Regions from separate parts of the Homo sapiens genome. Here region 1 is linked to region 2. The links come from fine-mapping of genetic effects on gene expression. Tissue or cell type: whole blood. Region 2 holds a variant in brackets; the other region holds the start of a gene. All regions are shown on one strand. Distances are from middle to middle.

What was found.
Region 1: GPD2 starts here. The variant in region 2 is fine-mapped to the expression of GPD2 in whole blood (TOPMed, PIP above 0.99).

What each region holds. Positions count from the first base shown.
Region 1 is chr2:156,428,923-156,444,217 of GRCh38, forward strand. It overlaps GPD2 (glycerol-3-phosphate dehydrogenase 2), which reads left to right and starts at 7,457. Exons shown (of 17, transcript NM_000408.5): 1 at 7,457-7,591. RefSeq lists silencers at 6,559-6,728, 7,169-7,578 and an enhancer at 6,969-7,018.
Region 2 is chr2:156,455,359-156,470,653 of GRCh38, forward strand. The region is part of intron 1 of GPD2 (glycerol-3-phosphate dehydrogenase 2); the gene reads left to right. Among named protein-coding and RNA genes, the nearest start is that of GPD2, 27 kb to the left of the region's middle. The variant C/G (reference allele first, on the strand shown) is at 9,470.

The DNA.
Region 1 (15,295 bases), 26 kb before region 2:
CTGTGCGTGTAAAAAACTTTCCTCTTGGCTTAGCAGAAATTAGGTCAATGCCTACATGTTTGAAGGCTAAGATACAACATCCTCACTTTAAAGCTAATCATGTACAGACATAAATCCTGTCTGTTGCTATTGTTATGCTGTTTTTGCTATTCAAATTCATTCATTTTCTTTTTTTAAAATCATGTTATAACATTATAAACAGTGGTCAAGTTTATTTTAAGCATTTACTGCTGAGATTTAAACCATTTCCAGGTTATATAAAATGTATTCAGATGTGGGACTGAACAAATCTCCAGTTTCTTGGGTTATTTACCATTGGTTCAGTTACCTCTTTCACTAGGATGATAACTAAGCTTTACTCTGAAAAGCTGAATTCTCTATTTTGTTTCAGCTCCCACAACAGAACTTAATACTTATTCATGTTCTCTGCAAGAGTTTCTTGGGACATTTCTGCTTACCCACACTTTCCTGCTGTTATTAAATAGGTGGCTATGTTCCAGAGACAACATTATTGAGTTTACATTATGAAAATTTATAAAAGCTAGTTTTCAGTGCTACCCTGTCCCAGGGACAAAGTGGATTCCTGTTTAGGGAAGGAATACACATTTCCTTTACCCTCAGGCCTTTAAATCTAAGTAAGTTTCTTGGTGCCACTTTATATTGATGCTTTAGACATTTATTTTAAGAATACATTCCCAGTTCTTATAAAGCAGAAATAAAACTTAAAGTACCCATTTAAAAATATATTTAGTATTTTTATTTCATCTTTTCAAGGATCATATATTTTCACTTCATTCTTGATTCTAACTCTTTCAGAATCACTGACATGGAAAGATTTTCTGTTGGATATTTTTAGATGTCTATAACTCTGCTGTTAAGAATTCGTGTATCAAGTAGGTGGAGATCTACCAAATGAGCTGTTCTTATCTTAAGATCCCAAAGTGATTGGTCTGATCCTGCTCAAGGATTTAAGATTTTCTTGGACAGCACTGTTAATCTTTTAGATACTCTATATTAGTTTTGTTTATTGGTAAGTAGTAAACTTGTAGTCTTTAATTTTTGGTTAACTTCTTAGTGTTTGCAACTATTGTTAACAATGGATACGATTATGTTAGATGCATATATAACATAACTTTCTAATTCATGTAAACTACCTAAACTGTACCCAAATTAAAGAATATAATGAAAAAAATATGTGAACATACAAAGCTCAGAACAAAGTGTTTTGGCAGGATATGCTTGTGATCTAGGGAGGAAAACTGACATTGGTAATAGTTCTATTGACAACTTATATACCAGGCATTTTACAAATATTATCCCACTCAATCCCAGTTTGGCCATCTGCTAGGTGTGGTGTCTTCAGCATATTACTTAATAGGTTTGTACCTTAATTTCCCCATTTGGTGGAATGAAACAAAAGAAAAAAAAACAGAAAAACAAAATACTTACATAGTTATGCTGAGGATTAAGGATTACATCACCTTGTTAAGACTAGTGCCTGAGATAAAGTAAACACCATATGAATGTTTGATATTAACATCCTTCACTGATAAGGATACCGAGGTTCTGGAAAGCTAGAGAACCAGACCATGGTTGAAGAACTTACAAGAGATGACTTGAGCTCACACAGTGTTCTCTATACCAAGCAGTTTCTCATTTTAGTCTTGGCTCCATGTTTAGCTAATGTTGTAATACTGCTGAGCTTTGGTTTTGTTTCTTAGAAAATGAAAGTGTGGGGTTAACATTTACAGCCCAGTTCAGTTCTAGTATTCCATACATTTTACTTTGAGCTTTGGTAACCAATGAACACTTACCTGGCTATGGGAAAAATTTGTTTTTCTCTAGAAATGGGCAAGGACTAAAATAGTTGGCTCTAGACATGTGGTGATCATTAAAAGTACATGGTAGACTCATCACTGGAAAGTACCCACATGGTGGGAAAAGGTCAATCCCAGAAGCTGCGTTTAAGATGTCTTAGTAGCAGGTAGCCTACTCTCCAAGTTTGGGAAGGAAAAAACTTCTTGCTCATTTTGTTACACCAGGATATAGGTGACAACCTAAATTCGTCTGACAACACAACAAAAACAAGATAAATGAATGGTGGACCAACTTAGGCTTCTGTAAGACAGGTATGGGTGAAAAAGGGAAAGCTTTTCAGATTTTTGTGGCCATATGAGGATGAAAACCCATGACTGTCCTTGAGTTTTCTTAGGCACAGGAGAAAGGAGTTAGGTGGCACCAAAGTTATTTGACACCAGAAATCTGAAAGACAGTAAACATAGTTTCATTCCAAATGCTGAGTCATTCTTATGGGGAAGAAGAGAAACACTTAAGACTCTCACTTCCCTGAGGTCTTGGTCTTCACTAGATTGCCTTCTGCTGAAATAATTACTTCATGTTTTAAAATTTGGTTATGGTCATTGTTTCCTTTCTCATAACCCCACTTAGTCTTCCTACACTTTTAGTTTTAAACCTCTTTATTTGTTTGATTTGGTTTTAATACTATAAGCAAAAAAGAAGCAGTAGCAAGTGTTTGTTGAGAAGGGAAGGTTTTTGTTTTTTGCTTTTTTTTTTCAATATTGTCTGTGGAGCTGGCATAGTAATTACTGAGAGCAATTCCTAAATTAATGATTATCTCCCACTTCTCCATGAAAGTATCTTAATAATGAAAAGAAAGTGCTTAGGCATATAGGAAATTGTGTTCCTGTTACATACTCTAATCAGCAACCAAACCCTTTCAGTGGAATTCTTGTTATATTAGGAGCAAGACACAGGGCTAGAGATAGGGAGGCAGAAAGCTACTTAGATACTCATAAAAAGAATTGTCAAAAAAGGCTTTAAAGTGTTATGTATTAGGCTAGAAAGAAAAATTTGTTATTATATTTTATTCTCTTTAGAAAAGATTCATGGAATAAATAGGGCATAGTGTTTTATTTTATACGTGTCTGCGTGTCTGTGAAATCTTTTTTTTTTTTTTTTTTTGAGATAGAGTCTCGCCCTGTTGCCCAGGCTGGAGTGCAATGGCGCAATCTCAGCTCACTGCAACCTCTGCCTCCCGGGTTCAAGCAATTCTCCTACCTCAGCCTCCCGAGTAGCTGGGACTACAGGCGTGTGCCACCAGACCTGGCTAATTTTTGTATTTTTTACTAGAGACAAGGTTCCACCATGTTGGTCAGGCTGCTCTTGAACTCCTGACCTCAGGTGATCCTCCTGCCTTGGCCTCCCAAAGTGCTGGGATTACAGGCATGAGCCAACGTGCCCGGCCAGTATCTGTAAAATCTTAAAAGAATGATCATAAACCTCTACATTTTGAAATTAATATTCATTAAAAATTTTTTAATTTCCATTTTTATTTTAGATTCAGGGGCTACATGTGTAGGTTTGTTTCAAGGGTAGATTGTGTGGTGCTGAGGTTTGGACTTCTATTGATTCCATCACCCACATACTGAACATAGTACCAAATTGGAAGTTTTTCAGCCCCTGTCCCCCTCCCTCCTTTTGGATTCCCCAGTGCCTATTCCCATCTTTATGTCTGAGTGAAACCATGATTTAGCTCACACTTACAAGTGAGAACATGTGATACTTGGTTTTCCGTTCCTACATTAATTTGCTTAGGATAACGGCCTGCAGCTGCATCCATATGCTGCAGCTGCATCCATGTTGCTACAAAGTGATTTTGTTCTTTTTTAGGGCTGTGCATTTTTAAGAATTAACAACTTTGAAAATATGCTCTAAATAACTTATGCTCTAATTGCAAGTCAGCAATGTTTTATTGGAGAAAATTATCTACTATACAACAGTTTCCTATTTATTTTATTCAAGTCAATAGTTGAGATTAGATGTGTGTGTGAAGAGTGGGAGAGTGGGAACTATAGAGCAGAGGTGCACGGTCTTGAAAAAGAAGATTCAGAGTAAATTGTATGCTGATCAGGTGAAGCTTCTTTCCTTGTCTGTGCCAATTGACCCCACTCTCATGCACACCTTTTTCCTTCTGTGTCCTTCCTGAATCCCACCAGATGCCAACATCTTTCTGCTGTCCTTTGGTTGTTCTGGGCCCCAAATTTGGCAAGAGGAATCACGTCCAGTGCTCCTGACTTTTCTCAGGAAAAGGTGGTTAGTGAAACCACCTTTGCAAAATTATGACCTAGACAGTGAAAGAGATCTAACTTAACCGACTGCAACTTGTTTCTAACCTACAAGCTGTCCTTGTTCATTCCTGGGCGTAGGCTGAACTAACTTTGGGAAAAACTTAGTTTACAGTTTATAGTTTTAACAAAGGTGGTAACAGCCCATTCCCAAAGCAGACCTCCCTCTTGCCTGGGGACTAGATTGCCTTTGTAGGACTAACAGCCACAAAAGATTAGAAACTATGGTTAAGGAGTCATTCTGACGCTCCCTAAACTGCTTCTAAGATCAGTGCTTGAGATATTTTGCAGACCCTGCACTTGACGGATCAGCTGGTACCACCTAGATCAATAAACTGACTCCTCTGACCTTGTGGCCCTCCACCCAGGAACTGACTTAGTGCAAGAAGACAGCTCCAACTCCCTATGATTTCATCCCTGAGCAATCAGCACTCCTGGCTCACTGGCTTCCCCCAACCCACCAAGTTGTCCTTAAAAAATCCGCTCCACGAATGCTCCGGAGTCTGATTTGAGTAATAATAAAACTCTGGTCTCCCGCACAGCTGGCTTTGCGTGAATTACTCTTGCAATTCCCTTGTCTTGATCAATCGACTCTGTCTAGGCAGCGGGCAAGGTGAACCCCTTGGGCGGTTACACTAGCTAGCAGTGTGACTAGGACTAGTGGGGAAAATAATCAGCTGACATAGTATGGATTGGACCAGATCGCTCACCTAAGCATTCATTTCAAATCAAGAAACATTTAAACATCAGTTATATTCAGGCACTATGCTAGGCACTAGAGTACAAAAGTGAGTAACTGATGGTCCCATTTCCCAAGCACTGAACTGATCTGGGATAATCAGTGAGAAGGAAATCCAGGACTGGCACCCAACTCAACCAGATTATTCCTTTTCTGGGTAACATGTTGCATTTCTAGATAAATGATGAGGGTTTGAAAAAAATGATAAAAATATTGGTTTGATTTGTCAAACTAAAGAAAAAAGAACTGAGGCATACTTAATATAACCAGTCTCATGATGTTGCCCAGTCACAAGTTTTTATTTATTTATTTTTTGAGATGGAGTCTCACTCTGTTGCCCAGGGTGGAGTTCAGTGGTGCCATCTCAGCTCACTGTAACCTCTGCCTCCCAGGTTCAAGTGATTCTCCTGCCTCAGCTTCCTGAGTAGCTGGGATTACAGGTGTTTGCCACCATGCCCGGCTAATTTTTGTATTTTTAGTAGAGATAGGGTTTCACCATGTTGGTTAGGCTGGTCTTGAACTCTTGACCTCGTGATCTGCCCACCTCAGCCTCCCAAAGTGCTGAGATTACAGGCGTGACCCACTGCGCCTGCCCGGCCACAAGGAAGTTTTTAAAGGAAAAGAAGAGGCAGTTTCTAAATTGTTTACCAATAATTTACATAAAAAAACAAACTATTAATTGTCTATAGATTGTTCTTCGTATCACAAATTCCAGGAACATGAAGATATGGTTGGGTAGTCAGTCATGAACAAAATGCCTTTAAACAATCGCCTCTGAGCATGAGTGTGGGGGGTGCAACTTATGTCCCATATTCAAGGTCTCTCTGGGCCTGATAAATTTTGCATACCTCACATTGCTCAAATGCTCTGAACTATTTTTCTTTTCTCAACTACAATTTCCTTTTTCTGGTTGCTCATGATTCAACTGGGGGAGCTTTTAAACCGTGGTTCTCAAACTTTAATGTGCATCAGAACTACCCAAAGGGCTTGTTAAATCTGGGTAGCTCAGCCCCAGCCCCAGAGTCTATGAATCAGGTCACTGGAGTACAGTTTCTGTCAAGTTCTCAGGTGATGCTGATGCTGCGGGCTCCAGTGACTACACTTTTAGAGCCAGTTTTAAAATACAAGGACTTGCAGATCCCACGTCCAGACTGACTCATTGGACTTGGGGATGGAAATCTGGCATTCCACCCCTCCCTGCCCCCTCCCCCCAATTTTAATGTGTCCAAGGGTGAGAATCATTGCTCCTCTGTGGACTATGGATGGTTCCCTGAAGTTACTGAGTTTGGGATTTAATAAATATATGCATTCCTCTGGGTCAACTACAGGAATTCTGCGGTATTTAAGGACATTAAATGAGTGACTTAATACTTTATTTAAAAAAATACCACTGCTTTTTGGTTCACACTAATTTTCTTCCTTCTTTTGGAAAGGCATTTCCGTCCATCTCCTGGATATTTTCCAATACCACGATAGAAAGGTTATTAGTACAGCACCCAGAGGTCTTCGGAGCAAAGCTGTTAAAGAAGTGGGGTCCATTTGAGCCCCAACTTTGCCTTCCTTAGGTCCCCTTGGGCTTGTCTAGCCCTAGGAGTTCCAACAAGTAAGCTGGGCATGCTCAGTGGGCAGGGTCGTTTTTTTTTTTTGGGTGGCGGGGGGTTGCAAGTGGGAAGCCTGCTGTTCAGCTGCCGGGGCTCTCCGCCTCCCCCCACCTGTATGAGGCTGGGTCTGGGGAACCTGTGCTCAGCATTCCACCCCCTGGAGCTTGGGCTTGGTCTTCCCTGCGGGTCCCTGCGCTGACATTCAGGCGGGGAGCCAGGAGGCCTGGCGCGCCTCCAGAGCCCGCCGGGGGAGCCGGGCGAGGGTTCTGGGCTCTGACGGCGGGGTCGCAGGGTCGCCCGCCTCCTGGACACGTCTGTAGGCCTAGGGAAGCCTGCCGGCCGGGAGGTACAGAGTAGGAGAAGCCAGATCCCAGGGCGGACAACGAGAAGTCGTCAGGTAAGCCAGCCCCGCCAGCGTGCCGGCGGACGAGTGTCTCCTCTCCCGCAGGCAGATGGCCAGGGCGGCCCGCATGGGCGAGGGCACAGGAAATCGGACACCGCCACCGTCTTCCCCAGCCTGGCCTAGCTCAGGCTTTCCAGTCCGCCAGCCCGCTGGCAAGGCGGGGCGGAGGTCTGGAGTCCGGCATCGCCGAGGCACAAAGCAGGAACTGCAGCCAGGGGCGAGGGCCCTTGCGTGTGGCGCTGCGCGACCCCACCCGGCGGCAGGACCCGCGTCCCCGTCTAGTCACGTTCATTGGGCCACGGAGACCACCTCGCTCGCCGCCCGCTGTTGGCTTTTCCCTCCCACACCCCCGCCAACCCCGGCCCCGGTTCCCGCCCCCACTTCCGCGTTTCCCCGCTGGGCCGGAGGAGCCTGGGCCCGAGGTATCCGGGCAGGAGGTGGCGGCCTCGCCGCCCTGGTCAGGCCTCCGGGAGGGAGCAGGCGCGGGAGCGGGAGGAGGAAGTCGGGAAGAGGGAAGGCGGGGGCGCGGCCCGCCCGGCGCTCGAGTTACACCCGCCCAGCCCGCCTCGAGTGACAGCCCCGCGCGCCTCGCTGGGAGCACCCGGGCCGAGGCTCTGATTCTGGGGGGAGGCCGACTCCACCCTGGCTGGAGGAACTGGGTGCTCCTGCCCGCTGGCCCCTCGCGCGTGAGGATCTATCTCAGGTGTGTGCTTCCTGGGAGACCCCTTCCCCCGCCTCTAGTATTCTAGGGGGGGAGTGGTCCCTTTCTGACCCGGGCGAGTGTTCTGGGACTCCAGTCTTGGCGGTAGGTGGTGGCGGGAAACGGGAAAGATTTAGAATTTCTTCCCACCAGCAGAAGATGGATTCGCTCTTCTCTAGGGTTTCGTTGTTTATGTTTTGGAGGCGGCATTTGTAAAATAGTAAAGTGGCAGGACTTTTGGGGCGAGGGTTGGTACCCCATTGAAAGTTCATGCAAACTTTTAGCTTGTAGATGCGGCTAGTCTGATAAGGATTGTTGCTCCCTTCCGAAGCAAGAGTGAGAACGAGTCTGGAGGAGGGCTGAGGCTTCTTTGAGAAACTCAGCTGCTGGCGTGTGACCGTCCTAGGAGGAAATGGAAGGTGCACACTGATAACTTAAAACAGCCTCCACTCCCTATGTAGTAACTTCTACCAGCAAAAATAGATTTGCAAAGAGTGCTTTGGCAGGAAGGTGTAGCTGGGTGAATGAAGTGCTGCTCTTAGCAGATGGTCTCTAGTCTGGCTTCCACCTTGTGCAGTGGAATATTCACTCCCAGAAGAGTTCCAGAGTAATTTACAAACACAAATTCTTGCAAAGTGTTAGTGACATGGGCAACCCAAATCACACACAACACATTATAAATATCATAGGAGGCAGCTATAGAAATAGCAGCTAGTCAACTTATACTTGTATAAATAGGTGAGGGAAGGAAGTTAGTAAGTGACAGGGAGTCTTTATTGCTAAAACAAAACTGTTAGTATTTTGCATGTGTTCCAAGTTTAAAGAGATGTGAAGTTTCTTTTTGGCGTGTGGACGGTGCTGGCAGCTGTCACACTGGGCCCAGGCACTTCTTCGTAGCTACTGACCACTCTAGTCCCAGTCCTACAGTTCTTGCTGGCTACCACATGACATCTGGATGCCATTGCCCAATGGAGACCGTGTGCAGTCTGGGGAACCTTGTGATGTGGATGTTGAAACCCCCCTCTGTTTCTCACAGGGGCGTTATGTCAAATTACAACACTCCCTTGACTTTTACAAATCAACTCGTGAAATAATACAGCAATATTTTAATGAATAAATGGGTAAATATGGGGTTTTGGGTTTGAGAACCAACAATGGATTCATTGCAACTGTCCATTCTCATAGCTTATAGAGTCACTTTATTTTATAAAGAAATTCTAAACAGCATTAGAGCTCTGCTTCCTTCTTTCTCCCTTGTGATTCATTCAAAGATGCAATGGCTTGGTTCAGGAATTGACAAAAGGGCCACAGTGTTACCAATTGTTAGTGAGTGTTACCACCCCCTTTAGTTTTTTTTGTAACTATTTAATCTCATTGTAGATATTTTAAAAGATTTGATGATTATTGTGCATAACTCATGTTGGCAAACTATTATAACTCTGAACTTATCCTGTTTGGTTGTTTTCTTTCATCTCTAGCGTGTAAGTTCTATGAGAGTAGCAGGGCTTGTTCTGTCTTGCATACTTTCAAAACTCTAATGCCTGGAGTGGTGACTAGCTTGTAATACACCCTCAATAAATGTTTTCTCAATGAGTGACCTCCAATGCCTAGAGGGGTGACTAGCTTGTAATACACCCTCAATAAATGTTTTCTCAATGAGCGACTGAACTGTGGAACAAACTCCAGCTGAGGGTAGTTGTGGAGCGGGGAGCCAAAGACTTTGGCCTTAGGTCATCTTTTAAAACTCAGCCTCAATTGTCTCATTGGCAAAATATGGATAATAAATGCTATGACGTGTGTAAAATTGCTAGCAATGTACCTGGCAAGTAGTAGACTTCAAAAGACTAGCTTCCATCCTATATTTTTCCTTCTTATACTCAAGTAGGAAAATATGGGCAAAGAATGTAGTTAGCTTGAAAATTTGGGCAAAGAATTCTTGCATGTTGTGCATGAATTATCCGTACATTTTTTTCGGTTAGTTGAGTGTGTTGGGATGGGGAGAGGAGAGGCGAGTTAGTGGTAGCTATGGTTATTAGAGAAGGGAAGCAATTTTCAGATCAGTATCTAATTTCTCAGTTTTAGTTTTTGAATGTGATGATGTTTCTGTTTAGGTTTTCCAAAACTTGATTCTTTCTGTTTGTCAACACCTGGACTCATGGGGCTATCCTAAGTGCAGAAACAACACTTCAGAAAGAGGACTAGAAATCAAATATATGAACACTAGTCTTCTTAAATGAAATTTTCTGTATTCTTGTGCAGCATTATATTGTGTAATAAGTGCTAAATAAAAAAATAGTTAACCTCTTTTGAGAAGCTTACAGTTGTTTAACAAGGTAAAACATAGATGGAAAACAATTGGAGACCAACATAAGACCTCGTACAATCATTTTTCCAGTGGTAGGATGTTGGCCAGAACTGATGTGATTATGAAGGAAAAGGTTAATATTGGCTCAAGTAGTTGGAGACAGCTTCCTGGTGAAGGGAATGCCACTTCAGTAACAGAGAGACTTAACATGTCCTGAAGACTATTGGAAAGATCACCTTTGTTTTAGGAATGTTTGCTATTGTGTACTTCATTGTATGAAAAAGCCAACATAATCTTGTACTTTCAAAAATGATCTTTCTGTTGAAAATTATATGGGAAATCTTCAGTAAAATTCTGCATATGCAAGAAATCAATACTTGTCACTATGTCTGTGAAGTTTAAAGCTCAGGATTGGCGTGAAAATGGTAACTCTTCATTCTTGTCCACCTTTAACACACTTGCTTAAAAATGTGTCAGATAGGCCAGGTGCAGTGGATCACACCTGTAATCCCAGCACTTTGCTTTGGGAGGCCAAGGCAGGCAGATCGCTTGAGCCCAGGAGTTTGAGACCAGCCTGGACAACATGGAAACCCCATCTTTACAAAAAAATACAAAAATTAACCAGGCATGGTGGCACGTGCCTGTAGTCCCAGCTACTTAGGAGGCCAAAACGTGAGAATTGCTTGAGACTGTCTCAGAAAAAAAAAAAAAAAAAAAAAAAAAACAAAAAAAAAAAAACAAGCCAGGCAGGCACAGTGACTCACACCTGTAATCCCAGCACTTTGGGCTGGGAGGCCTAGGCAGGCGGATCACCTGAGGTCAGGAATTGGAGACCAGCCTGGCCAACATGGCAAAACCCTGTCTCTACTAAAAATACAAAAATTAGCCGGGCATGATCGTGGGCACCTGTAATCCCAGCTACTAGGAAGGCTGAGGCAGGAGAATTGCTTGAACCCAGGAGGCAGAGGTTGCAGTGAGTCAAGATTGTGCCATTGCACTCCAGCCTGGGCGACAGAAGGAGAATCTGTCTCAAAAAATAAATAAATAAATAAATAAATAAAGTGTCAGATGGCCTGCCAGTTATTCTATTCAGTTTTGACAATGGGGTATATTTTATATATTTTTTACCTGGAGTATAAGGAGAAAATTATTAGTCATCAGGGTTGAGACCCCTCAACCCGCTAAATTCAAAATTGTTACTTGGGAGATAGAGAAGAACTGAATGGAACTAAACTAAGAAGATATTATTAAGTAAGTTTTAGTTGCTCATCAAAATACTTAAATAATTCCATCATGTCTTAAGACTTTTGAGATAAGAAGAAAACTTGGAAGTGGTATGTTAGGGGAAGAAGAAACTAATAAAGTGTGTTTTACTTTTCTTTGTTTTAGAATTGTTGACATGATGCGTGAAAGAAATGTATGAGGAAGATATGATCAAACTCAACTCCAAGTGAGAAAGACAAGGGCCAATGTGACTGCAAGCCAGGAAATCTCTAACAATTTTAGAATAGACTTCTTCCTGTACTATATGACCAGGGAGTGATCTCAGGAACATTTAAGAAAAAGAAAGGAAGAGATGTTGATGGTTTGAATACCTGAGGATGTTTAGATAATGATTGTGGTCAGAATGCATCCAGAATTCTAATTTGTGTCCTGATGTGAATGTGACCATGTTTGTTTGTTTGTTTGTTTTTGTTTTCCCTTTGGCTTGTGTTCTGGGATTTGATCTCTCGTTAGAGACTCTTACTAGTTCTTTGAGTTGTGTATTTCTTTCTATATCATATCGGTGCTCTTATTTCCTATTTTTCAGTAGAGAATTTTATGTTCTTTCAAAACCAAATTTCTGATTTATGCAGCAAAAACATGATTTCTGATTTATTTAGGTCAAGCTTCGGTTCAATTAGTTCACAAAATTAGTGGGAAAAATTGGTTAATAGATGTCTCTCCTTCTCAAGTACAAATGTATTGTGACATATTGTGATATAGTAAGAAAGATACTTGTCCCCAGTTCTGACTAAAGAACTTTTAAGACCCTTCGAATCTCTGGAATGATGAGTGTCTTTTTCTACACTGCTGAGATGACAGGTGACTCTTGGTAGAACCCTAGATAGCTTCAGGATGGAGATGGGAGCTGGTGCCAGAGGAACCAACTATGTAATTAGAGGGTTGGAATTTCAGCTTCACTCCAGACCTCCGGGGAGAGGAGAGGGGCTGGAAATCCAGTCAGTCACCAGTGGACAATAATTTAATCAATCATGCCCACATCATGGAGCCTTCATAAAAACCTTAAATTTTGGAAAGCTTCTGAGTTGGTGAATACATGGAGGTGCTGGAAGGAAGGCATGCCCAGAGAGGACACCCCTTCTCCCATTTCTTGCCCTGTGTACTTCTTCATCTGGCTGTTGATTTGTGTCTTTTTTAATACCTTTTGTAATAAACTGTTATATGTAAGTAGGCCTGTTGTGGTGGCTCACACCTGTAAGCCCAGTACTTTGGGAGGCCAAGACAGGAGGATAACTTGAGCTCAGGTGTTTGAGATCAGCCTGGGCCACGTGGAGAGACCCTGTCTCTACAAAAAATTAAAAAAGAAAAAACTAGCCAGGTGTGGTGGTCCATGCTTGTAGTCCTCACTACCCTGGAGGCTGAGGTGAGAGGATCTCTTGGGGCCAGGAGGTCAAGGCTGCAGTGAGCTGCGTTAGTGCCACTACGCTCCAGCCTGAGTGACAGAGCAAGACCTTGTCTCAAAAAAAGAAAAAAGATAAAAAAGTAAGTAAATTTCTGTTAGCCACTATAGCAAATTATCAAATTTGAGGATGGGGTTGTAGGAACCCCTGATTTGTAGCTAAGTCTAACAGAAGTGTGGATATCCCGGGGCCCACTATTTTTGACTGGCATCTGAAGTGGAGGGCAGTCTCATGGGACTGAGCCCTTACCCTGTGGCGTCTGCACAAACTCTGGGCAGTTAGTGTCAGATTGAGTTAAATGGTAAAACATTCTAGTTGGTGCCCCTAGACAGAGAGTTTCTTGGTGTGGAAAACCCATACATTTGGTGTCAGAAGTATTGTGACTAGAGGAATAAGTTTTCTTTACATATGTATTGACAAAACTTAAAGACATTATTTGGGTACATCTTTTAATTATTCAGGCAAAATGAAAGAATTACTTATGTACTGTATTTTTGACAGTGAGATACTGTCAAAGTCTGGGTACTTTAGAACAATGATTGTTTGATTTAGATTTTTCAAGCCTTATGTTTTTTGAATACTAGTATGTCCTCTGTGGAATCTCATATTTGATTGTGCACATATATCCTTCTATAAAAGGGTTTAATATAGTGGGAAAAACAAACCTGACAAGCTATGACAGAGAGACTGTTTTCTGAAATCGAGATTTCTAGAAGCTGCTACTGTCAAATGAGATAACCTCTGAGTATTACTTGGTGACAATGGGGTGACATGCTTAGAATGCTTTGCTACTTGTATCTGCTGATGACCACCAAGGCCAAGTAGAAACTTTAGATAGCTATATACTTATGTGGAACAAAAGTTTATGTTCAGGGTAAACTTATTAGGAAAAACTTTGGTCAAGATTTCAAGAAAACATAAAATAAGCTTCTAAGTGTACTTCAAAAGTGATGAAAATAATGCAGTTCAGAGTACTAGGTTCTCAAAAGTTGTTTTCTTTTCATTTTAACTGAATAAAAGAAAGGATATTGGCTAAGTGTTGGCTCATGCCTGTAATCCCAGCACTTTGGGAGGCCAAGGTAGGAGGATCACTTGAGCCCAGGAGTTTGAGACCAGCCTGGGCAACATGTGAGACCCTGTCTCTACAAAAAATAAAAAATAAGCTGCGTCTGGTGGTGCGTGTCTCCTACTTAGGAGGCTGAGGTGGGAGGATCCTTTGAGCCTAGGAGGCCGAGGCTGCAGTGAGCCATGATTGCATTACTGCACTCCAGCTTGGGCAACAGAGCAAGACCCTGTCTCAAAAAAATAAAAAAGTAATAAAAAATAATAAAAAGAAAGGATGTTTTGTTTCATTGTGGTAATGCCCAAACTGCTTTGATCATGTCACTCTCTCTGCTCCATGCTTCCATGGATTACTCTGCCCTATTTGATCACGTTCTAAATATTTGTCTTGGAATTAATTCAGAGACTCCTTCATTCTCACCCTAATATTAAGGTGCTGTCCTTATCTTCTCTATGATCCAGTCATATTGGACTGATTGGAATTCCCTAAATATAAAAGTAGGAATTCCCTACTGTTGTCCCTATTCTGATGTTCTTCCTTCTATTTCACTTTTTGAAATCCTAACAAACCTTGAGTGCCCTGACCCCTGGCTACTAGTTTTATGACATTTTCCCTCACAGCCCCAGTCAGAAATGTCTTGTATATTTTCTAAACCCTTTAGCTACTCTTTTTATGCTACTCATAATTCCCTTATAGATGCTTGTCTCCTGTAATTATTTGCAAGCATGCATAATTTTCTTTCCTATGGAAGATCATGCTGGATCTTACACAATTTTGTAGACCTCACATGCCTAATCCAAGTGCCTTTCATGTGGGTGACACCTAGTAAGCAGTTGTTCATTAATGGTTGCCCCATAATTCAGTCATCCCCAATTCAGCAATAAGTGATAAGAGTGTGCTGGGTGTGATTGGACACCAGATACCACACAGGCAGGTGTATTTCAGGTAATCTATTCAACTGGATACTTTAAGCTTCATCTTTTTTTAGGCATCTCCCTCCCTACACATTTGGCAGTTTTAATCTTTTTATTTTTATTTCAAAATTTTTTTCCCTCCCAAGGTGCTGAGAGGTTTAATATCTTAAGGATATTTAGGAGAGGGAAGGGGCGAAGTGACATTATAAAAGGAATCCTTGAAGAAAATCAGTGGAGGAATCTACAAATAAGGAGGCCACTTAATGTCCACTGAGGACTCAGCACCTCTGTCAGGACACCAGGGCTTCCTTCTCTTCACCAATTTCTCCCTTCCCCCTACTTACCCACCTAATCCAATCTCTTAAGAAAGAATCTGGAAAATGAATTCCTAACAAGATGACTTACAAAAATTACCTTGTCCCCCTTATCAAAGGCGTTGGATTCTATGGGGACAGCGCATTGGGGACCATTTATGTGGGCTAGGTCAAAGGTGGGCAGTGCCTACTTCTGAGCATCCCTGCAGCCACATTATAGCCACTCAAGTGTGGCTTTGGTCACTGTCTGGACCTTTCACTTTTCTCCTTGTCAAATAAGGTGGCTGGACTGGATGAATTTGAAGTCCATGGAGAGCATGAAATGTTTATTTCTCTTGTCCTGCCTAAAAGGAAGCCAGTCATGGCCACTGGGTTCTGTTTGCCTCTGGACCCTGGCCTAGATTTTCCTTTTATTACCTGGAGTTTG
Region 2 (15,295 bases):
AATTGACTAGCACAGTCCTTATAACACAGTATGTAGCCAAAGCATATGCTTAAAGCCTTCTTGACAATCCTTTGTCTAATGACAAAGTCCAAATTCCTTTGACTCGTATATAAGATTTCCAGTGATTCTTCTGCCTTGCTCTATTGAGTTTCATTGCCTCCTTACTTAGGATTACTCATTCCACCCTATGCCCTAGTCAGACCACACCCTCTTGTTCTTGAAAATGATGTGTTGTCTTATACCATTATGTCTCTGCTCATAGTCACTCTGGACATAATACACCTTCACTGTTAAAGTTACATATTGCCTTCCCTAGAAACCTCCCCTGATGCTTCCTGCCTTCTCTTTCCTTCAGGGGTAAGTAATCCCTTAGCGCCTTGTCCTTATTTTTATCATTTTTGTTTGTGTTAGAATGCTTCTCTCTAAGCCATTAGTTTTTTAAAGGCAGAAACCAGTAAGTGATTCATCTTTGTTTACCCATGGTCTAATACAGTAGGTGCCCACAAATGTTTGTTGAGTAAATGAAAACTCACTGCATATTTGAGTTTCCATATTGCCTTTGTTTGGTGAAATCTAAATTATATATTTTTTGCTTCTTTCTTTTAACAGTGCAGGAAATTTTTCTGATGAAGTAGTAGATGAGTGCAGAAAAAAACTGATGTCCATGTAGTTATTTAGGATGGGAAACAGACTTCATCCTGTGTTCTTTTCCTTCTACTGAGTGACTTTTACTGCTTGATTTATCCAGTGATTTTGCTCACTATTGCCATTGTTTTTTGGTGAATTGTAATCATTAACGTTTTCAGTGGTACACCAAAGAAATGCAAACAAATGTGATTTTCTGGTTGTTTAATTGGGCATTTTCTGGTGCCCACTTAGAATTGTGGGATTGGGGTATGGAGCATTCTAGAATGTTGGTGAAAAGTCTAGTCCTTTAGGTTTCTTCAAATGTTGGTCTTCTTGGGCCAGGCGCGGTGGCTCACATCTATAACCGTAGCACTTTGGGAGGCTGAGGTGGGCAGATCACCTGAGGTCAGGAGTTTGAGACCAGTCTGGCCAATATGACGAAACCTTGTCTCTACAAAAATACAAAAACTAGTCGCATGTGGTGGCGCACAACTGTAATCCCAGCTTCTCTGGAGGCTGAGGTGGGAGAATTGCTTGAACTTGGAAGGTGGAGGTTGCAGAGATCACACCACTGCGCTCCAGCCTGGGCAACGGAGTGCGACTCTGTCTCAAAAAAAAAAAAAGTTGGTCTTCTTGATCCTACATGAACTAATTAATTCTGTATTCCAAAGAATTAAGATAATGCAAATCAGATGGCAGCAGAATGAATCAAGTAAGAGTGGGAAGGGCAAATGTGAAATGAGGGGGCAGGAGTGAGTCACTCTTTTGTGTAGATGGATAGGGAATGCTGGAAAGGGGAGGGTGAAGGTGGGTTGGGGGCTGTGGGAGAGTCTGAGCAATAAGGAGATGGCGTAGCATGGGTAAAGGTGGTTTGGGCGACACAGTGGTTAGCAAGCTCTGTGGTTAGCATGTTCTGCATGAGTGACCAAGCAAGGCCCATTTTGGCACTTGAGATGGGATCACTGACCCTCGTTCCCCAGTTCTCATTGTAAGGTTAAACAAAGATGCAGTGTATGCTTTCATATTTTGAGATTAGGGTATCATTCTAGAAGGGACACATTCTTGAGAAATAGCTTGATTTCTTTAAAAAAAAATTGACTCATAGACTGTTTCCATGGCATTTTGATTTTTTATTAGTATTTTTTCCTAAGGTACTTAGATGGTGTCCAGAGTTTGTGACAGAGCCAGAAAGCAACTCCCCACCTTCTCTGAAATAAAAATAAATACCAAGAAGTACTATTCTAAATAGAGGACCAGAAACTACTCATATGGGTCAAAGTTGTCCCAATGACTTGGGTTAACTCAGGCCACAAACCTTTGCTCAGGCTTCTTACAGGGAATATTTTTAATCTGCCAATTGACAGACTACTAGAGATAGAGGTATAAACGTTGGACTCCATGTGATTAGAGCCTGATCTGAAGGGAAAATCCTCTTGCCTCCTTCTGACCTCTGTAACAGGTAATCTGTGACCCAGAAATAGATCTGCATTAGATGTTGGGCTTGATATGGGTTTATTTTTGATAGAACACTCTGAAATAAGAGTGTCCATTCTATTTGAGTGAATGTTTATTTGGGGGAAAGATGCTAGAGATATGCCAGAAGAGGCCGCCTGCCTGTGTCTTTTCAGGGAAACAATGGGATTTATTTCCCCAACCTGTGAGTGTTAAGTGTACTTGGTTGTTCAGAACAAAGTGCTGGTTAGGCCAAAGCAGGGTTGTGGCCCGATGGAAATTGGTTGGTTGCTTTTGCTCTCTCGTAACAATAGTCTTCTATATCCCAATTCCACGTGCAAATGTGGACAATGTGTGAAAAGGCCAGAGCTTATTGTAGATGCTCAGTAATGTTATGTATTAGCAGTGGGAGTTGTTGGATAGCAGATGTATTTTTATGCTTTACTTATATTACCTCGAATTCTCAGTATAACTTGTGACAAAAGAGATTTTATAAATGAGGAAACTAAAGCTCATAGTCACACAGCTAGTAAGTGGCTAAGTTGGAATTCACCCAGGGCTGTCTGTGTCTTCTGTCTCCTACACTGGCTGCCTCCTGCACTGAATTTTCTCCTGGGTGTCATTGGTGTCATTTGAATATGCCGAGGACAGCAGCCTAGGACTAGCAGGTCCCTGGCTGTGCCTATAGGAGTAGCTGTGTTCCTGCAGGCAAGCACTAAATTATCACAGGGTGGGGAGAGAGAGGGAATGTTGGCCCCCATTTTAGGATGGTCTGTCTCTTCTCTGTGCATCTGTGGACTTCCTTTAGGGCCTGGCACAGTGGAGGGGCCCCCTGGGTGTGTTAACTAAAGAGATTCTGTAGTTATGGAGTTGAAATTTGGGAAACACCCAATTCCAGGAAGGTTGATCAGCTTTGCAGTTTCTGGTTTGATTTGTTGTTGGGATTTCCAGTGTTGCATTAAAACTGCAAATCCCCGAGGGGCTGTAATGTGCAATAACTAAAAATGTAGGGCGAGTTTAGGTGCAGCTTAACTCAAGCTTAAATGGTTATTGTGTCCCATGCTCAAGGCAAATTCATTTTAGTTAGGGTGGAGATTTTTCTAGAATGAGGCAGATAATTCTGTGACATTTTCCAGTTCTTACTCAAAGATTCCTAATAAATTGTAAAGGCAAAGTATTCTTTTTCTTTTTCTATATGGGTCTTTTACTGTAGTTCATTAAAGATGAGAAAAAGTTGTATAACAGGAAAATCACTCAAGTAATGGTCAGATGATATGGGATTTGGTCAAATGTCAGCTATCCATCTGCATGGTGCTCTTTGGAATTCTTTTTTTTCAGGTCTCTTTCTCTTATATGCATGCACACGTATATTCCACATTTTTTTCTAATTACAAGAATAATTCATGCTTATTTTAGACATCTAGAAAATAATGCACACAAGGAAGAAAATAAAAATGATTCATAATACTACCATTCAAAGATGAGATTTTTAACATTTTGGGGTATATTCGTCTAACCTTCACTTGTGAGTGTGTATGTGTGTGTATGTACATATACTTTAAAATAGAAATATATATATATATATATATACACACACACAAAGATACTGTTTTATTTACTTTTGTTCTCTTCATAATTAATTTTCTACTTGTCCGTTACCCCATCTCTATCCAGAGTGTACTTAACTCAGAAAGGATTAATTCCTACAAGGTGAAGAAATTCTAGAATGTCTAACTTATTTAAGGGTGCCATTTATTTTTTTAGACTTTTCTTTATTATGATTCTTTTCAGTATGAAAGTGTTGCTTTTTCAAGTCAGAGTGGGTTAAGGGGATGTTGATGGCAGTCATTTGGCATGGTGAGTGACTTACGCCTACTGTCCGGTTTAGGTGGTAAAAATGGCAGAAGGCCTTGGAGTGCCAAAGGCAAGGGTTATGGGTCCAGCAGTACCATGAAAAAGGGAATATAGGCTGGGCGCGGTGGCTCACACCTGTAATCCCAGCACTTTGGGAGGCTGAGGTGGGTGGATCACGAGGTCAGGAGATTGAGACCATCCTGGCCAACATGGTGAAACCTACTAAAAACTACTGAAAATACAAAAATTAGCTGGGCATGGTGGCGCATGCCTGTAATCCCAGCTATTTGGGAGCCTGATGCAGGAGAATCGCTTGAACCAGGGAGTCAGAGGTTGCAGTTAACTGAGATCATGCCACTGCATTCTAGCCTGGCGACAGAGCAAGACTCCGTCTCAAAAAAAAAAAAAAAAAAAAAAAGAAAGAAAAAGGGAACATATAGAAGATCTCAATCTTTTACGTAAGGACATTGAAGTCCAGGGAAGTCTGATGGCTTTGTTCAGGCTGAGACTATCGTAGGGTAGACTGACATCTCAGGTTGCTGACTGCCCATTCTGTAATCTCTGCAGAGCACTTGGCTGCCACATAGTATAATCTGAAAAACTGGCAGCTGCCAGACGAATGACTGAAGGAGTAAGCTCAAGTGCACTAGGTGAGGTCAGGCCTGAAGGTCATTGGACTGATACTGAACCTGGCGTTTTGACAGGAATCCTATTAGAAATGCCACTTAGTCACTTGCCTCCTGACTGCTTCATGGTAGGAACAGAGGCTCAAACTATGGCCTGAATTTTTTGGATTAAGTTTAAGTTTTACTTAATATTATCCCAATTTTATCTCAGACATTATCTCAAAATTATTTCAAAATTTATGGTTGAAGAGAGGCTGTTGAGTATAAATTGCTAATGTACTCTGCTGAATTCCATCAGCTATGTGATTTGACTGAGAACAGTACGATCCTAGCCCACTGGGGTCTGGTGAATTGCATCTGCTCAGTCAGAGTGTTCCTTGAGCTGGAATTGAAATGCATGGCCCTTTAGTTTCCAGTGTGATGCCAACACTTCAGGCAATTGACTTTTGCTCTTCAGTCTCCAATAGGGGGAAAATTATGAAATAAAATGGGGATAGGCCAGGCATCCTCAAGATTCAAACCCATAAATATAAATAACTGTAATTAATCATATGCAGTCTCTCTTGCCTGTTGGAAATTTATACTCAGCTGGGTCAATAAGCTTCACACAGCTCTTAACTTCCTGGCCTGTAGTTGGTGGGAAATGTTCTGGGTGCGTCAGCCTTTAGAGATGTGACCTAGGGTTCTTTTCCAATATGGGTCCAAAATCAGTGCAAATTATAATGAGTTGTGGGGTGAGAAAAGTCACCTGGAAACAACCCCAGCCCAAGGGGAAATAGAAATATAAAAAAGACTTCTGTTGGCATTTAAGAGGCTCTCTTAGATGACACTGTCTGTTCATTGTTGTTAGCCTGTTAGACTGAGTGAGATGAACAGTCTTTCAAGTATGTAAGTTCAGTACATATTTACATTCAAGTTTATCCCTAAAGTATTTGTTTCCCTATTATAGAATCTTGTAGATTGCAGTTGGTATTTTTGCCTGTTTTCTCATATAATTTGTTAACTCTTTCCCCCTCTCCCATTGTGTCCTTTTTTCTATACTTGCATCTACTCATTATGAACATGGCTAATGGTATCCTAATGAAAAAGCAACCCTCTCTCTCTCCTGGGGGTCATTGGTGTCATTTGAATATGCCAAGGATAGCATCCTATCACTAGCAGGTCCCTGGCTGTGCCTGTGCCTATAGGAGTAGTTGTGTTCCTGCAGGCAAGCACTAAATTATCACATTATCTCTCTCTATCTCTTTTTTTTTTTTTTTTTTTTTTTTTGAGACAGGATCTCACTCTGTTGCCCAGGGTGGAGTGCAGTGGTGGGATCTCAGCTCGCTGTAGCCTTGACCTTCCAGGCTCTACTTTTACTCTTATTACCCTAAAAGGCATCCTCTATACTGCAGCTAGGGCATTTCTTCCTTTCTTTCTGAAATATAAGTTTCATCGTATCATTGTACTGATTAAAATTCTCCACTGACTTTTTTGTTTGTTTGTTTTTGAGACAGGGTCTCACTTTGTCACCCAGGTTGGTGTGATCGTGGCTCACTGTAGGCTCCAACTCCTGTGCTCAAGCAATCCTCCTGCCTCAGCCTCCTGAGTGGCTGGGACTATAGGTGCATGTTACCATGCCCAGCTCATTTTTTCTATTTTTTGTAGGCACAGGGTCTCACTATGTTACCCAGGCTAGTCTCAAACTCCTGACCTCAAGCGATCCTCCCACCTTGGCCTCCCCAAGTGCTGGGATTACAGGCATGAGCCATCATGTCCAGCCTACCCCAGTTATCCTCTAACCTATTATTTCATCTTTATTTTCTCCTAGTAATTCTCACTTTCAAAATACTTAATTTTTATGTTTGTTTACATGTTTATTTTTGTCTTTTCCAATCCATGAGAGTAGAGGAATTCCCAGCCCCTGGAACAGTGCTGGGGATCTGCCAGGTATTCAGTCAATCCCAGTTGAATGTATGTTACCTGAACCAATGCTCCTCCTCCTGTCTTCTTCACTTGGGTAGGTCCTTCACGGATACTTTCCTGAGTATTTGATGGAACTCTTGCTTTGGTTATATTCTAAGAAATTACAATTTTAATCTTTCCTTTGCTATTGGTATGTTTTCAATAAGCCAGTTCTCAAGGAATTTTCGAGTTTTTTAGAAGCAGCAGATGGATTTTTTTGGTCCATTTATCTGCAAATATTTCTTTAAATGCAGGAGAGCACAGAAAAATATACTAATTGTTTCTAGCACAGAAGCAGAGAGTGTTGCCATGTTTTTTCAAGATAATGTGGATCTATTCAGATGAGGTAGAATTGAAATAAGAATTTTCTTTTTCTAAGGCCTGGACTCTGTGCATGTACCTGGTTTGACATTCTTTTTTTCTTTTTCTTTTTTCTTTTTTGAGATGGAGTTTTGCTCTTGTTGCCCAGGCTGGAGTCCAATGGCGTGATCTCGGCTCACTGCAACCTCCGCCTCCCGGGTTCAAGCAATTCTCCTGCCTCAGCCTCCCAAGTAGCTGGGATTCCAGGCATGCAACACCACACCCGGATACATTTTTTTTTTTTTTTTTTTTGTATTTTTAGTAGAGACGGGGTTTCTCCATATTGGTCGGGCTGGTCTCAAACTTCCACCCTCAGGTGATCTGCCTGCCTTGGCTTCCCAAAGTGCTGGGATTACAGGCATGAGCCACCGCACCTAGCCTGACATTCTTAACTCTATGTAAGAGGCTGGGGTAGTTTGTTTCATTCACAGTGTGTACAGCAAAATCCAGATGTTTTCTAGTAAGCTCCACTAACCTGAAACACATAAAAGAAGGGGGTAAAAAGATCCCTGAAGAGTTAGAGCCAGAACATTGAAAACCAAGTGTTAAAATTCTAGTAAGTAGCTCCTTTAGCCTTACTTAGAGCTATTTACTTGTATTTGAAACAGTTAAACTAACTTGGCTCTCATTTTTCTAACCACAGTGGTAACAATGACGAGTTAATGGGTGCAGCACACCAACATGGCACATGTATACTTATGTAACAAACCTGCATGTTGTGTACATATATCCTAGAACTTAAAGTATTAAAAAAGAAGTGAGCTCAAAGATAAACAGGGAAGATTATCATCAGCCTGATAGTTTGGAAGAAGCAGGAAAATTGTAGGAAGCAGAGAGAGGAAGAATTCATACAGGAACAGACTGGGACCTGAGACCACTAAGTAAAGGCATTAATAGTGTTGTCACTCCTATTATTCCTGAGGCCATCACCATATCATAGCATGTACATATGGATGGCTGTAAGTCGTCAATAATTGAATTCATGGTTAATATTATTTAAGAAGCCAAAGTGTGACTTACATTCTTGAAATATAGTATTTTAATCCAAAAGAATACAGAATTTTTTTTTTAACTGTATACTCCACTCAGATGTAAACTCTTGGAATGCAGGGATTTTTTTGTGTGTGTTCTTTGTTTGCTCAGTGCCTGACACATGATGGATGATCAGTAAATAATTATTAAATAAAACCATGAATGCAAGTTTTAATTATCTAACAGTGCTAAATAAATAGGACATTAAGATAATGCCACATTTAATGCATGAGGGTTGTTTCCCCTTCTTCATCTATTGAATGAAGAAAAACCATAAAGTAATAAACTTTTAAAGTTAAAATAGCTTTGGACATTTTGAAGGCTAGCTCATATATAGTTGGAGTGAGGATCAGCAAGTTCAAGTGATTTGCCTGAAATCGCAGAGCAAGTTAGTGGAAGAGACAGAATTACAAGCGTGTCTTTCCTTCCAGAATACCCCCTGATGATTTTCTTTTTTAATTTAGAGTTTTGGGAATACAACATAGAGAATTATATATTTTTGGGAAAGACTATAGAGTTCTTTTTTGAAAAAAAGATCAATGACAGCTTCAAAAGGAATATTGAGTCGAACCCTTTATTTTCTCTATTTATGCTATTTAAATTTTAGACCTGTCACCTCTGTGCTATTAGCTCTGTAGTGTTGATACCAAACATCTTATGCAGAATAACTAGACTATAGTACTTGAATGCTTTTCATGAGGGTTTGTGCTAGCCCTTTTAAAGAAGAAAAGAAATATCTTTTTCTTTAGTTTGGAAAGGATGCGTTATTCAACTGAGGAGAGTAAGATCTTATGACCAAGATCATTTTAGCCAAAATGACTGAGATAGAAATACAGCTTTCCTCATTATTTTTGCATAGGTGAAGGAAAATGTAGTATATTTTCTTCACTTTTTTTGGAGTGGGGATGGAGCATTTAGGAAATACATTGTTTTCACTTACTTTAAATGGGAATTTTGTTAGCAGTATGAATTACTTCAATCTGTTTCTCTCATCTGATTCTTATTTCCTTGTGAGTCAGACATTTTTAGGAAGTGTAATCAGTAAGCTAAATATTCTAATACATGATTATTTTCACTACAGTACGTCTCAGGTTTCCTTTTTCATATATGCATTGTATCTGTACTTTGGCTCTTTGTTGTAGTTCCATTTATACTTGTGGATTATTAGATGTACAGAGGAGTAAATTTTAAATGTAAATTTCAACAGGTTACAGGAGAAAAAAGACTGCAGGATGGAAAAACTAGTCAGCTTTTTTCCTAGGGATCTTCTCTCTGTTAAGGAAACAGAGTGACTGGTCTTCCCACCACAGCGCACTTCTTGATCTCTTATAACTCTCAGTCACCACTTATACATTAAATATATGTGTAGTGATGTTTATAATAGAGCTGTATTCAAATTGAGAACTTTCTTTTACAATGAACTGAACAATAACTGAAGTTATTGTGCTATAACTAATTATTATTAAAAATTCAGTCATAATTTAAAAAAATAAGCTCAGGATTTCTTAAACCATCTTCAACAGATACTTCCCCAAATATATTTCTAACGGCATATAATGCAGTTGCAACAGGAA[C/G]TTTTGAAAGAATTGGTACATTTTCTTTTCTTTTTTTTTTTGAGATGGAGTCTTGCTTTGTTGCCCAGGCTGGTGTGCAGTGGCATGATCTTGGCTCACTAAAGCCTCCACCTCCTGGGTTCAAGTGATTCTCCTGCCTCAGCCTCCTGAGTAGCTGGGACTACAGGCACCCATCACAACGCCTGGCTAATTTTTGTAGTTTTAGTAGAGATGGGGCTTCACCATGTTGGCCAGGCTGGTCTCGAACTCCTGACCTCAAGTGATCCACCCGCCACGGCCTCCCAGAGTGCTGGGATTACAGGCATGAGCCACCGTGCCCGGCCTGGACTTTGTTTTCTTACAAAACATTTTACAGTATGTATTCAACAGCCATGATTGTAGTTACTCTGTAAGGCTTTGTTAGTTTTAATAAATTTTGAGGGAAGGCTTGATATGTTTTAATCTTAAGACAGACATTTAAAACTCTTTGATTTGCAGCTTATTTTATAGCAAGGTAAAGGACTTTTTCTTTTCTTTTCTTTCTTTCTTTCTTTCTTTTTTTTTTTTTTTTTTGAGACAGGATCTCATTCTATCACCTGTGCTGGAGTGCAGTGGTGCCCTCATAGCTCACTGCAGCCTTGAATTCCTGGGTTCAAACAATCCTCCCACTTCAGTCTCCTGAGTAACTGGTACTACAGGCATGTGCCATCATGCCCAGCTAATTAAAAAGATTTTTTCTGTAGAGACAGGGTCTCGCTTCCCAGGTTGGTCTTGAACTCCTGGCCTCAAGGGGTCCTCCTGCCTGGGTTTCTCTGAGTCTGGGATTATAGATGTTAGCCACCCACCACTCCAGGCCTTTTTCTTGTTTTGATTACTGAAGTAGATTCTGTAACAGCATGTAAAATGTAAAAAGAGCGTTTATGCTGCCAAAGGAATGTCAAACATTATCTTAACCCAATAAAGGGTTAGTAAAGGGGCGGAAAGACTGAAAGAAGCACAGGACTAGTATGGTCTGTTTGACTAATGAACTTCTTTTGAATGTTATCAATGAATGTGTTTCATTGATAACATTCCTGCCTCCTCAAGGCAGATTTAAAGTTTTTCTCCCTGTTGTGCTATCTCCTTTTCATGCTAAGTCAACCATTTCTTGTTAGTTGATATAAATGCAAGTTTGTTTAATTCTGTACTAGGCATGTTATCTACTCAGCTCCTTAACCTGACTTGTGTTTTTACAAGGGGTTGGCATTTTTGTGAAGGAATGCTTCAAGTTTTCACTTGGGAGGGACATTTTATTTTGGGGCTCTCAGGGTTACCCTCAATTATGTATATGGTAAGCAAAGAAGGCAGAGATAGATTTTAATGGAATATTAAAGATAGGATTGTACGACTTTAAACACAAATCCGTGAATATATCTGGAGTGATACAGAGTATATATTAACTTTGCTTTTAAAATGAATTTAAAATGGAATACAAATTCACTTGCGTGCACTAACTATAGTTCTTTATGACTTTTATAGCAATTGTATGGAAAGCAAACATAATAGAAACTATTCTATTATGAATTAAGCTGTGGTTATTTGCATTTAATGAATATAATGAGCTTCATTGATTTCTTATAATTCTATAGTGAACCTCATGAAATAAAGAAAAAGGGTCAAATTTGTGACTATAGTTCCAGTGTGTATTTTAGAAATGGTAGAAAGCATAAGTATGTTATATGGCAATTGCCTTGGAAATGGCATATATTTTGTAAAAAATCGGGTCTTAAATAATGCATCACTACTAGAGTGCAAACGTGTATCCTTGTGTTCCTCTAAGGCTCCCTCCCTTTCAATGCATTTTTTGTTTTAGAGGACTTTGTGAAATAAATGCTCGATTAACAGTTATGACATTATTAAACTTAACCCCCCATCACACATCAGAAATCCCATGTAATAATGTTTGCAACAAATTTTTTATAAACAGAGACTTTTAACTGGCTCACTTAAAATAGTTATTGACCTTATTTTCTCCTTCTTTTGTACCTTTTACTTGCATTTTTTGAACTCTGCCCCTGAAACTAGCTCAACTCGTTTCTTAGCCAGCTTCTCCTGTCAAGCTTCCAGGCTCCTGCCCTCCTTTGAGGCTGAGAAGTGGTCCTGGGCCAACCTCGTTCTCACTGTTGGTTTGCTTCTAAAATGATATAATTGACATAAAGGTGACCCAGGGAGACTCAGAATTTTCTAGCTTTACACTATGTGAATTGATATAAATATAGTGTTTATTTTCTTTCGCTTTCTCTTTGTTTCATGATTTTTTTTTTTTCTCATTCTTCTTTATGGAAATACTCTTCCTCTGCTAAAATTGTTTACTTTCTCTTGGGCTGGGGTGGGCCCTTCTGGCAGTAATTGCCTGGGGAAATAAATGGATTGGAAGTGAAAGAACCTGCCCTTCTTGGAAGCAGGCTGGCCTTTTGATAGGGTGTGGAAGTCAGGGACAAAGCTAGAGTCTGGATGCCTTCCCAGCAATGTGTGAGTGTGTTGCTTTAGCTTCTTCCACCACAGTCCAAAAATTTGTGTATTTAGAACCTGAGGATTATGTTTCACACATTTCTGTTGACTTTTACTTGGTTTTTTGATTTATCTTGCGTTATCAGGATAATGCTTTTCTCAGTGACTTCGGAAAAGCCTTTTTGTTTGTTGTTTGATATCCTGTTCAGTGTATATATTCTTTACAACTATAGGTTGTTATTGTTGTGTTTGTGTGTTTTTGCTTTTGATATAATAGAGAAAAGGCTAAAGAAGGTGACGGAAGGATAAAAGTGTCTTCTGTTTTCTTAGGACTTGATACATTCACTTCTTTCCATAGGGATTGTCTTTTGTGAAGAACCCTTGGGTCAATTTCCTGTCCAGTCTTGGCCTAAATCCTTTTTAAAAGCAACAACAACAAAAGAGGAGAATTCACCTTCAGTTTACAGAATAGACCTCCTCTCTGTTTCCAGAGAACAGGCTAATGTGCCTCTTCTGTTTGACTGTTTTGTTCATTTAGGTCTGATAGCTTTCAAAAAGTACACTTGAGGGCTCTCTGTGTGTTTCTGTAGGAATCACATGTGTAAGATACAGGTGTGTAAGTCCTTCTCTGCTTGGCTGGGGGGAATGCGTTTGCAGGCAGAGTACTAATCATGATCCCCACAGTAAAGTAAAACTTGGGGAAAGAGTAGTACATGGTATGCTTTGATTGTTACTTGTCTGAGTAAGCACTGTATCAGCATATGTTTGGTGTGTCTGAACTATGAGATACCTCCTTCAAGGGAATTGTACAAAACATTTGTTATCACATTAATTGGAATAATAAAAGGTTTGCTTGCTAAAACACATCTAGTTCAAGCCACCCAGTGATCTTGACTTTTATAGTTAAAAGGGTGCTGCTGGGAGGGAAGAGGCTTTTGAGCTCACTCCTTCTTCTGTTTTACTGTGGACTTGCTGTCAAGCTATCCATGATTACAGACCCGTTTGCTAGGACCTTCTCTGATGAGGTTCTATATGCTTATTTTGTAAGACTCATGCACTTTTCTTCAATAAGTCACTGGATTTGTATGCGAGTGTGAGGCCTGGCCCTCTGAGTTGTGCCTTCCATGGGTGTGACAGTGTGACACGACTCAAAATAGTTGAAGGAGTGGGTTTTGCATGCACAGCTACAGGAGCAGGTGGCTGCACAGATGAAGTGTAAGGAGCATTTGCTACCTTTGGACCACAAAAGGCTTAGGTAAAGGGCTTAGTGATTAAAGGGCTACCTCTAGGTTACATCTTGGGGTTTTTATTTAATGTTTGAAATGCCTTGTACATCTGGATTTCTCAGTGTAGGTGATTGGAAGAGCATGGATCGCTTTTATTTATTTTTAATTTCTTTTTTCTTTTTAATTTTTCTGGGTACATAGTATGTATACATATTTTTGGGTACATGAGATAATTTGCTACAGGCATGCAATGAGTAACAGTAATATCAGGGTAAATGGGTATCCATTACCTTAAGCATTTATTTCTTTGTGTTACGAACATTCTCTTAGTTATTTTTAAATGTACAGTAAGTTATTGTTGACTGCAGTCACCCTGTTCTATCAACTTCCAGATCTTATTCATTCTAACTATGTTTTTATACTCATTAACCATCCCCACCCCAACCTCACTACCATCTCCAACCTTTGGTAGCCATCCTCTACTCTCTGACTCTCTGTCTCCATGAGTTCATTTGTTTTTATTTTTAGCTCCCACAAATGAGTGAGAATATGCAAAATTTGTCCTTCTGTGCCTTATTTATTTCACTTAACATGATGTCCTCCAGTTTTACCCGTGTTGTTGCAAATGAAATGATCTCATTCTTTTCTTTTTTGAGACGGAGTCTCTCGCTCTGTCGCCCAGGCTGGAGTGCAGTGGCGTGATCTCAGCTCACTGCAACCTCCACCTCCCAGGTTCACGTGATTTTCCTCCTGTCTCAGCCTCCTGAGTATCTGGGATTACAGGCACCCACCACCACGCCTGGCTAATTTTTTTGTATTTTTAGTAGAGACGGAGTTTCACCATGTTGGCCAGGCTGGTTTCGAACTTCGGAACTCAAGTGATCTGCCCACCTTGGCATCCCAAAGTGCTAGGATTACAGGTGTGAGCCACTGTGCCCGGCCTGATCTCATTCTTTTTTATGGCTGAATACTACTTCATTGTGTATATGTACCACATTTTTGTTATCCATTTGTCTGTTGATGGACACTTAGGTTGATTGAAAATCTTGGCTACTGTGACTAGTGCTGCAATAAACATGGGAGTGCAATATGGGATGCCTTTATGTCTTGCTGGAGAATGCATGCCCCGAGGACAGCAAGGCTGGTCGTTGAAATTACTCTTCTGTAATTGATCTTTGAGCTGTACTCTCCGCCCCTCCATTGGTCATGCTTGTAAGGGATGGAGAGAAATATGCTTACTTCTATGCTGGCATAAGAATCAAAACCCTGAGAAGTTCTAAACTAATGGAGAGCATGGGGATTAGAAAGGTAATTGAGGTTTCTATATAAGAAACCAGAAAGATAGGAGAGTTTTTGTAAACATGAAGGTGTTACAGGAAGGGGGTCCCCATCCAGATGCCTAGAGAGGGTTCTTGGATCTCACACAAGAGTTAAGGGTGAGTCCATAAAGTGAAAGTGAAGGAATAAAAGAATGACTACTCCATACACACAGGGCTGCTGGTTGCCCATTTTTATGGTTATTTCTTGATTATATGCTAAACAAGGGGTGGCTTATTTTACCCAGCTCCTATTCAAGATGGAGTTCCTCTGGTTCACACGCCTCTGACAAAGGGACCCAGGGCTTATTCCACAGAGGAGTGACAAATGTATTTGCATGGAATCTTTTTCTTTTTCTTTTTCTTTTTTTTTTAAGACAGGGTTTTGCTCTGTCGCCCAGGCTGGAGTGCAGTGGTATGATCATGGCTCATTGAAGCCTTGACCTCCTGGGCACACATGATTCCTCCCACTTTGGCCTCTTGAATAGCTGAAACTAGAGGTGTGCGCCACCATGCCCAGCTAATTTTTAAATTTTCTTTAATAGAGATGGAGTCTTGCTTTGTTGCCCAAGCTGGTCTTGAACTCCTGATATCAAAGAATCCTCCTGCCTTGGCCTCCCAAATTGCTGGGATTACAGGTATAAGCCACTGGTCCAGCCCATTTGCATGATTCTTACTTATGCTAAATTTGTATTTTGATAAGTAAGGCTTCTGGAAGAGAGAAGACAGGGAGATGAGTAGGAGAGTGAGTACTTTTTAAAGAGATTTCAGAGGCCAGGAAGTGCGATCTGGTTCTGGAATAAATTTGCTTGTGC